Regions from separate parts of the Homo sapiens genome. Here region 2 is linked to region 1. A link means that fine-mapping ties the variant in region 1 to the expression of a gene that starts in the linked region. Tissue or cell type: tibial nerve. Region 1 holds a variant in brackets; the other region holds the start of a gene. All regions are shown on one strand. Distances are between the middles of the regions.

What was found. PIP is the estimated chance that this variant, and not a neighbour inherited with it, causes the effect.
Region 2: it holds the start of LNCOG, and the variant in region 1 is fine-mapped to the expression of LNCOG in tibial nerve (GTEx, PIP above 0.99).

The regions. Positions count from the first base shown.
Region 1 is chr12:76,309,540-76,314,847 of GRCh38, forward strand. No RefSeq gene overlaps it. Among named protein-coding and RNA genes, the nearest start is that of BBS10, 36 kb to the right of the region's middle. The variant A/G (reference allele first, on the strand shown) is at 3,035.
Region 2 is chr12:76,257,984-76,263,153 of GRCh38, forward strand. LNCOG (lncRNA osteogenesis associated) reads left to right here and starts at 1,900. Exons shown (of 4, transcript NR_146531.1): 1 at 1,900-1,998.

The DNA of each region.
Region 1 (5,308 bases):
TCAAGGCTGCAATGAGCTGTGTTCATGTCACTACACTCCAGCCTGGATGACAGAGTAAGACCTTGTCTCAAAAATAAATAAATAAATAAATACATAAATAAATAACTGATCACAGATCTCCATGTATATATAATAATAATGAAAAAGTTAAAAATACTGTGCGAATCACCAAAATGTGACACAGAGACACGAAGTGAGCACGTGCTGTTGAAAATGGAACTGGTAGGCTTGCTTAACACAGAGCTACCACAAACTTTCCTTGTTTTTGTTTTTTGTTTTTTGTTTTTTTGAGATGGAGTTTTGCTCTTGTTGCCCAGGCTGGAGTGCAATTGCACAATCTCAGCTCACCACAACCTCCACCTCCCGGGTTCAATCAGTTCTCCTACCTCACCCTCCTGAGTAGCTGAGATTACAGGTATGCACCACCAAGCCCAGCTAATTTTGTATTTTTAGTAGAGACGGAGTTTCTCCATGCTAGGCAGGCTGGTCTTGAACTCCCGACCTCAGGTGATCCACCCGCCTTGGCCTCCCAAACTGCTGGGATTACAGGCGTGAGCCACCGTGCCCAGCCAAACCTTCCATGTTTTAAAAATGCAGTATCTGAGAAGTGCAATAAAGTGAAAAACAGTAAAACAAGGTATGCCTGTGTGTGAATGAAGAAATGGATAAAAGAATGAACCTAGACTGTACTACCAGGTACAATACCAACTCTGGTATTTAAACCATAGGGGAGCATCCCAAACCATGCCAGATAAATGAGTCATGCTCTATCAACAACAGTAAGAGTCTTTAGACTTGCTCCAGAATTGTAAGTCTACAGTGGCACTCCCTCACTTGGGCCTGTGCTGATCCTTCCTTTGGCTTTGTCTTTGCAGTTACTGACTCTCAGGCTCTGTGTCCACCTCTTTCACAGCTATGAATGGGGAAACTATCCAAGGCTGATTCTCCACTTGCTTGTGAGGTGTTCAATTTGCTTTATTTGACCATTTTTTTCTCCTAGTAAGAAGCAAGAAAATCCACCATAAGCTCTGAGGAACAATCACACCAGACTGAGCATTTTTATTTCTTGAGCCTTTGCCTAAGAAAGAGTGTGGATCATACTTTCTAATACAGTCAGGATGGAATATCAAAATGTGAGTATATCATGTCCAAGCAGCAGGTGGGGGCCCCATAAGAGAGGTGCTGGTTTAAAAGTCTTTCCCTCATGATTTTCAGATTTTCCTAATTGGGGCTACAAGTTCATATTCAGATGTTGTGTTTCTTCTGATTTTGGAATCTGTAAACCTTCCCCCTCTCCCTACGGAAGCCCTAGTTTTTGCAACAGCTCTCCATCTGCACATGCATCTCATTGTGGGGTGCAAAGGGCTGGTGGCGAGATTTTCCAGTGTGCCTGGCTAACCTGTCATAACTAAAATTTATGGAGCAAAATAGAAATGTAGGTGGTTGCTGTGTTGTCACAATGACCGTGAATTGAGTTTGGGGACTGTATGAAAATAGAGGAATATTCTTGGTTTGATGGAAATGTATAGTGTATTTTCCGGCAATTTCTCAAATTCAGTTATTCAAATCTCACATCTATTTAAGCCGGTCTATGGATCCTGTGTAGGGGATCAAATTACACAGATTGAATTCTTGACAAAATTTCTGGAAACAGGACCCTTTCAGGTTTATCAAATTCTACGTGGGTCTGTGTCTTTCATTGTCCTTGACTATTTTGCAAATCTGTAGAAATTGAAGTTAAGTGGTGGAAGGTTGGTGGTGATGTACATGATTCCTGTTCTTAGAAATAAGAATGACTTTTGTCCAATGAAGGTGTATTGATTTCCACTCTATGGAAGAGGCTAGTTTTGCATCTATAGGCAAAATTAATTCAATATTTCTGATTGCCTATATATGTGTTTTGTCCTTGAATTCTCCTTTCAACCAATTTTTACTTCTTACTGGTTTCCTTATTAAATAATAAGTGAAATAGACTGGGCGCGGTGGCTCACGCCTGTAATCCCAGCACTTTGGGAGGCCGAGGCAGGCAGATCACGAGGTCAGGAGATCGAGACCATCCTGGCTAACATGGTGAAACCCCGTCTCTACTAAAAATAGAAAAAATTAGCTGGGCGTGGTGGTGGGCACCTGTAGTCCCAGCTACTTGGGAGGCTGAGGCAAGAGAATGGCGTGAACCCGGGAGGGAGAACTTGCTGTGAGCCGAGATTGTGCCACTGCACTCCAGCCTGGGCGACAGAACGAGACTCCGTCTCAAAAAAAATAAATAAGTAAAAATAAATAAATAATAAGTGAAACAAGATTTTTGGCATTGTGTAATTGCATGGGTTTTTTAAAAATTACTCTTCAACATCCTGATTCTCCAGCAACTTATTCATTCCCAGAAGTGAGGGTGGCATTGAATGAGAGAAGAATCCTGTGTTTCTGACTCATCATTTACCCAGAAGAGAGTGAGCTGACAGAGCTATGTGAAAGGACAAGATAATGTTTACCCTTATTCCTGGACACCGAGGCTCTAAATTCGAATTTCTTTCAGTATACAGTTATAACATTACGTTTGCACAGCCACATGTGAAGATGTTGTGGTGCTCCTTTTTTTAATCTTACATTTTTAACTAATTTACTTACATAACCAAAAATGAGAAGAACAGGGAAGAATCCTGGTCTTAGAGAAGCAAGATGGAAAATTAAACGCGAGGGGATCTCTCTGTCTCTCCCTCTACCACTTATTTCTTAACCTGTTTGCACGTTAATTTCCTTCTCCCAGACTGGCTTCTCCACAAGCTGTAGACCTGCTGCTAGCATCTCAACATCTCTTAACTTATATCCTCTGTGGAAAAAACCAAGAACACCATTAGCATAAGCCTTTCAGTAATGCCGGCGTGAAAAGGAGCGTTCTAACTTGGGAAGGAGGGTGGAATTTTTTATAGGGCTTCAGCAGGCAGGGTCAGCTCAAGTTCACTTTGTTTTAAGAACAAAGATGGTTCCTAGAAAAGGAAGGAATTTTCTTTAGCAATTAGCGGTCACTGTTTGGACA[A/G]CTTGGATTTTACCAAGAGGAGTGGGAGGAACAGTCCGGTCATGTGTGAGCGGCGGGGGTGGGGAGGAACAGCTACAGTGGACAAGGACATGGAGGCCTACAGTGGAAAATTTTCATTTCTTCAGAGTCTCTTACATCTTACAGTCTCAGGACCTTTGAGAGCCTTCTCCCCACTTCAGTCAATCTGACTTGCTTATCCCTGGACCACTCACTGTGGTCAAGGAGGCAGAGTCAAAGAAGAGACTGTTTCTGGTCAGACCTGAAAGCTAGAACAGGGGGAGGAGCCACTCTTTAAAAAGAGGGAGCAGCGGGCTGGGCGCGGTGGCTCACGCCTGTAATCCCAGCACTTTGGGAGGCCGAGGCGGGAGGATCACAAGGTCAGGAGATCGAGACCATTCTGGCTAACACGGTGAAACCCCGTCTCTACTAAAAATACAAAAAATTCTCCGGGCGTGGTGGCAGGCCCTGTAGTCCCAGCTACTCCGGAGGCTGAGGCAGGAGAATGGTGTGAACCCGGGAGGCGGAGCTTGCAGTGAGCCGAGATCGCGCCACTGCACTCCAGCCTGGGCGACAGAGTGAGACTCAGTCTCAAAAAAAAAAAAAAAGGGAGCAGCCCAGACTTGGCTGATGAGGGCATCGCAGTAACAGGGCAGCCCTCGCCTTCCTCCCCATTTGTGTCTACGAAACCCTTCTTTTCCTCCTTCCAGGTGAAAGGCTCAGTGCTGCCTGTCGGGAGCACTGCTTCGAGGAGACCGATCCAGAGAACTTTCAGCCTAGGGAGTACGGCGCGCAAACCCAGCTGAGGTGAAAGTCTCATTGGGGAGCAGCTCCCAGCACAAACTGCTGAAAGGCTGGCCGCAGCCCTGCTGCCCAGATTTCTTCTTCAGCACTCTCTAACTCCCTAGAGCTTTTAAAATGTCCCCTGTGGTCACTCTGTATACCAGGGAAGACAAACGGGTTTGGCTTCATGCCTGCATTGGCAGTGCTGGGTGCCTCTTCATCCTTCTCTCTCTCCTCTTTTTGGCAGAAAAACCCTTTTCAAATATCCAAGCCCCTTCTTCTCTATAAAAAATAAGACAGATGTGAGCTATGAACATCGTTACTGGTGAAAAAATTAAGATTTAGGAAAGGAAATATCTGTCCTCATCATTTTGCCAGAAGAGCAGAGTAGTTACAGTCATGGACTTTAACTCAAAATCCACAGAATTTGAGTCCTGGCTTCCCACTTACTGATTCCGTGACCTTGGGCAAATACTTAACCTCAGTAAGCCCCAGCTTCTTATTTAGGAAATGGGGAATAACATGTACCTCAAAATTTAGGGGAATAATGCATGTAAAGAATATGCCATTGTGTCTGACATATATTAAAATCCAAAATTACAGTAATTTTTGTGATTATAAAAATGATGGTGATAACATGAAAGTAACTAATTAAATAAAATTATGTATATTAAAAATATAAAAATATGATTTTACCACCATCACCACTCCCAATATTAGCATTTTTAAAATAGAATTTTACAATTAAGACCTCAGATGATCTCACGTGGTGGTCAAGCTGTCACTTCTCTAAAGTGGCCTCAATTGCTCCAGGGCCAGAAAGTAGGAAAATTGGAACACAGGAGCGCTGGGCATGACGTCTCATGCCTGTGATCCCAGCAATTTGGGAGGCTGAGGTGGGCAGATCACTTGAGGTCAGGAGTTCAAGACCAGCCTGGCTAACACGGTGAAACCCTGTCTCTACTAAAAATACAAAAATTAGCCAGGGCGTGGTGGCAGGTGCCTGTAATCCCAGCTACTTGGGAGGCTGAAGAAGGAGAATTGCTTGAACCTGGGAGGCAGAGGTTGCAGTGAGCTGAGATGGCACCACTGCACTCCAGCCTGGGCAACAGAGTGAGACTCTGTCAAAAAGAAAGATGAAAGAAAGAAGAAAGAAAAGAAAAGAAAGAAAGAAAGAAGAAGGAAAGAACAGAAAGAAAGAAAGAAAAAGAAAAGAAAGAAAGAAAAAGAAAGAAAGAAAAAAGAAAGAAAGAAAGAAAGAAAGAAAGAAAGAAAGAAAGAAAGAAAGAAAGAAAGAAAGAAAGGGAGGGAGGGAGGGAGGGAGGGAGGGAGGGAAGGAGGGAGGGAGGAAGGAAGGAAGGAAGAAAGAGAGAAAAAAAGAAACACAGGAAACCTCTGCCCTGAAGAATGGGGTACGTAGACCAGGGACCAGGTCCCCTCATTTCAGTGTTACCTCCAGGCTCTGTGTGTGTGTGTGTGTGTGTGTGTGTGTGT
Region 2 (5,170 bases), 52 kb before region 1:
CGCATCTGGCCCTTTTTTTTTTTCTTTCTAATGAGGTCTCACTATGTTGGCCAGGCTGATCTCAAACTCCTGGGCTCAAGTGATCCTCCCACCTTGGCCTCCCAAAGTGCTGAGATTACAGGTATGAGCCACCATACCCAGCTCACTTTTATTCTAATTTCTGATTCCATATTGATATTGTGCTTAGATATATCAACTGTAGAGACCCTATATTCAAAGCAAGATATTTTTAAAATGTCAGCCTCCCCCAGAATGTTCCAAGATATTAAAAGAGACATTAACTCAGAATCTTTATTTCATCAGGAAAAATTTCTTCTATAAACAGTTAGTAACTCCCAAGGGCTGTCACTGGTACAATACTAAGAATATTGCCTCTGCAGAAATAAATGAATAACACATTTTTAGATGTTGGAATGATGTTATCTGCACATTATCTGTGGGAGGACAGAAGAGTCTCCATAGTCTCTACACATCATTTGCTGCTGCTTCTTTTTTTTTTTCTTTTTTGAGATAGAGTTTCCCTCTTGTCACCCAGGCTGGAGTGCAGCGGCACGATTTCAGCTCACTGCAACCTCCGCCCCCCTGGGTTCAAGTGATTCTCCTGCCTCAGACTCCCAAGTAGCTGGGATTACAGGTTCCCACCACTATACCCAGCTAATTTTTGTATTTTTAGTAGAGATGGGGTTTCACTATGCTGGCCAGGCCGGTCTTGAACTCCTGATCCACCCGCCTCAGCCTCCCAAAGTTCTGGGATTACAGGTGTGAGCCACCGCACCTGGCCATCATTTGCTTCTCAATGGCAGAACAACAATATGTGAACAGCAAGAGAGAAAATGTAAGACTAATTGCTTCAGGAAAGATAACTTTGGTACTGCAATTTAGCCATGAGGGACAAGTCTTAGTGGACAGCTGGTTCTTCATCCATCGGAAGACTGTGGTCATCTGTTCATTCTACTCTTTCTTCTCTGTGGATGAAGTTTTCCGTCATTGTCTTCACACTACCTTGACTTTCTCTGGATTCTATTGACTTAGACAGATTACTGGCTCCTAGTGGACTACTGCATCTGAGCAAATGCTTACTCCCTATTTAATTGTACCTGTCTTTACCTATTTATTCAGAGGAGCCAGCTGCCCTGGACCCCATCCCAATCTCTGTCAAAGGTCACTCTACTTCCCAACCCAATGTATCCCACATTCCTAGAAGACAGAGGCTAGGGAGAGATTAGAAGAGAGAGGTTAGAATGCCAGGATTAAAAGGCAGCTTGTTTTCTTCTTTTTCACATGTCAAACTGTTAAATGCCATTAGGCCAACTCACTTCCCAGCATGTGACAAGGACACTGCTGGCAGGGAACATCTCCTTTCTCTGACCCTCTTTTGCTCTTCTTAATCCTCAAATATTGAAGTTTTTATCTTCAGCAAATGAAGAGGTAATTTAAACTGCTTACAGAGAGAAACCGAATGGGGGAAAGGGTATATGTTGTTAGTAACCCCCCACAGTTTAAGTGTTTTTAATTGTACATATAGGTTTTCTGTTAGAAAATGACTAGAATTTTCTAAGGCAGCACTGCCTAATAGAAATATAGTGTGAGCCACACAATATAATTTTTAAGTTTTTAGTAGTCATTAAAACAAGTAGAAAGATACCAGTGGAATTTTAATAACTGTATTTCTATACTGCTGCTCCTTCTATTGAATCTAACTTAAAATTCCATGTAACCCTCACATGTGGGTATGAAAAACATTAACAGGAAATGCTAATATAGGGAGTCAGTGAAGCTGGGGTAGGAAATTGATGATGTGATACCGGAAGTGATCTGGCAGGGCTTTAAAGTAATGCCAGAGGTCCTTCCAGGCAGTTCTCAACTTGCTCCTTGGCTGTTCTCCTGACACTTAAGTCAGAGCATTCTGTAGCTGTATTTTACAGAACTGTAATTGCACAGATTGTTCCTCTTACAAGAGAAATATCCAGAGCTCTAAGAAAACAACTGATGAAAACGGTATGTACCCATTTAAGAAAATCTGCCCTCGAGATATGATGTTATGATTTATTTGAATCTTACTGTGAATTAAAGCACTATCTCAGAAGGGTTTGCATTTAGATAATGACTGTGATTGTCATTTGGCTGGCTTGAAGAAATTCAAGAAATTTAAGCCATTTTTGAGCAGAGGAGGAATTAATATGGGGGGAAGAGTATCTTTCTGTTTCTCTGTTTGCTCTGATAGGGGCCACACAGGTCGTTGCATAAGGTAAACACTAACTGTGGGGCCCATGTGATTTGTTCAGCTTTAGAAAAATAATAAAGGGGCACAGTGAAGCAGAGGTGTGGTGCTGAGCACAGGTGATGGGGTAGAGGATGACAGAGAACAATATTTCAACAAATTGAATTTAAAGATCTCATTAGCTTTTATTAGCAATTATGAGTTGGTCAGCATCCCATTCATAAAATGGAAAGACATTCCTCCAGGGTTGGCAGAACAGTTGATTTCTGTAAGGTAGCTTAAGCAAGAAGGAAATGGTGTCATGCCAAAAGTGGGTTGGTTAACATCAGATGGCTTCAGTTAACTTTCCTTGTATGGGTTAAAGCAGAGGGCCTTTCATGTTATGTCAGCTCAGGTTGACTTGGTGGCTTTGGATTGGTTGCTGAGAATCTCCTAGATTTTTTTTTTTAACTGGCCCATTTCTAAATTCAGTTTAATTATGTGGAAGCTAGAATTTATTTCATTTTGATTTGGTCCCGGCTGATGGAGCCTAGTGCAGGAATCAGTCCAAAACAGTGGCCTCCCATATTTTTTTTTTTCCTTTTTTTTAGACTGAGTCTCACTCTGTTACCCAGGCTAGAGTGCAGTGGCATGATCTTGGCTCACTGCAATCTTCACCTCCCGGGTTCAAGCAATTCTCCTGCCTCAGCCTCCCAAGTAGCTGGGACTACAGGTTTATACCACCATGCCTGGCTAATTTTTGTATTTTTAGTAGAGATGGGGTTTCACCATGTTGGCCAGGATGGTCTTGAACTTCCCAGCCTCCAGAACTGTGAGCAACAACTTTCCATTGTTTATAAATTACCCAGTATATACTATTTTGTTATAACAGCCCAAATAGACTGAGTCATTCACTATTTTTTTTTTTTTTTGAGACGGAGTCTCGCTCTGCTGCCCAGGCTGGAGTGCAGTGGTGCAATCTTGGCTCACTGCAACTCTGCCTCCTGGGTTCAAGTGATCCTCCTGCCTCAGCCTCATGAGTAGTTGGGACTACAGGTGCCTGCCACCACGTCTGGCTAATTTTTGTATTTTTAGTAGAGATGGGGTTTCACCATGTTGGCCAGGCTGGTCTTGAACTCCTGACCTCAAATGAGCCACCCACCTCAGCCTCCCAAAGTGCTGGGATTACAGGCGTGAGCCAATGTGCTCATCCAGCTTCAATTTCCAACCCCTTTCCCTTGCATAGTGATAGGAGTGGTGGATGGGGCTGAAAGTTCTAACATTCTAATCAAAAAGTGCTGGGATTACAGGCACTTTTTGATTAGAAGTGCCCGGACCCATAAATAGTATTTAACAATGGTAACTATGGTAGGCAAACATCAAAGCACACTGTTGCATTTTTTGGAGATTCTCTAGGTAGGCATCCAACTCTGGGAAAACAGAGGAAGACCATCATCATCAGAAAATAAATGTTCTAAAAAACTGTCTCTGAAAAGTGTTGCTCTTTAGTCCCTTGCTCTCCATGCTGGAGTTAATGAGTGTGAAGTCCTTTGAGAGTTACCTGTGCAGTGGAAATGGAAGGAGGAAAGTGCTCATTTACCTTTAAGGGGACAAAAGTGGAGCTCCACAAACAGATGCAAAGCAGCTGGAAGAGGGGTAGGGAGGAGGACTTTTGTTTAGAGAGTTTCCTTTTTCCAGATCTACTTTAAGTCTTTAATCCATTTGGAGTTGATATTTGTATATGGTATGAGATAAGGATCTAATTTCATTCTTCTGCATGTGGATATGCAGTTTTTCCAGCACTATTTATTGAAGAGACTCTTCTTTCCCTATTGTGTATTCTTGGCACCATTGTTAAAGATCAGTTGACTGTAAATACATGGATTTACTTCTGGGATCTCTGTTTCACTGGTCTACATGTCTGTATTTGTGCCAATACCATGCTATTTGGATTACTATAGCTTTGTAGTGTATTTTGATATCAAATAGTATGATGCTTCCAGCTTTTTTTTTTTTTTCTCTCAATATTGCTTTGGCTACTCAGGGTCATTAAGGATCCCATATGAATTTTAGAATTATTTTTTCTATTTCTGTAAAAAACACTGGAGTTTTGATAGAGATTGCATTGAATCTGTAGATTGCTTTATGTAGATAGTATAAACATTTTAACAATTCTTCCAATCTGTAAACATAGGGTATCTTTCCATTATTGGTGTCTTCGATTTCTTTCATCAGTGTTTTATAATTTTAACTGTACAGATCTTTCATGTCAGTTAAATTTATTCCTAAGTGTTTATTTATATTTTTATTTTTATTTTTATTTTTTTGAGACAGGATCTTGCTCTGTTGCCCAGGCTGGAATGAAGTGGTGCAATCACAGCTCACTGCAGCCTCAATTTCTTGGGCTCAAGCAATCCTCCCACCTCAGCTCCCCAAGAAGCTGTATCTACAAGTGTACACCATCACACCTGGCCAAATTTTAAAATTTTTGTAGAGACAAGGTCTCACTATGTTGCCCAGGCTGGTCTCCTGGGCTCAAGCAATCCTCCTACCTCAGCCTCCCAAAGTGCTGAGATTACAGGTGTGACCCACTCCACCCAGTACTAAGTTTTTTTTTTTTTTTTTTTTTTTTTAATTAAAGCTATTGTAAACGGGATTGTTTTCTTGATTTCATTTTCAGATAGGCTGTTAGTGTATAGAAATGCAGCTAATTTCTTTATGTTGATTTTGTGTCCTGCAACTTTACTAAATTTATGTATTAGTTCTTATAGATTTTTGGTGGAGTCTTTAGGGTTTTCCATATATAAGATCATGTTATCTGCAGAGGCAATTTCACCTTAATGGAAAAGACCAAAGTAATTTTTACTCTTCCTAACCTTTCATAGTAATAAATGACATTTATCGAGAGCCCACCACACAGCAGGCACTGTTCTAAGCACTTCACAGGGATCATCACATCAAATCCCCACA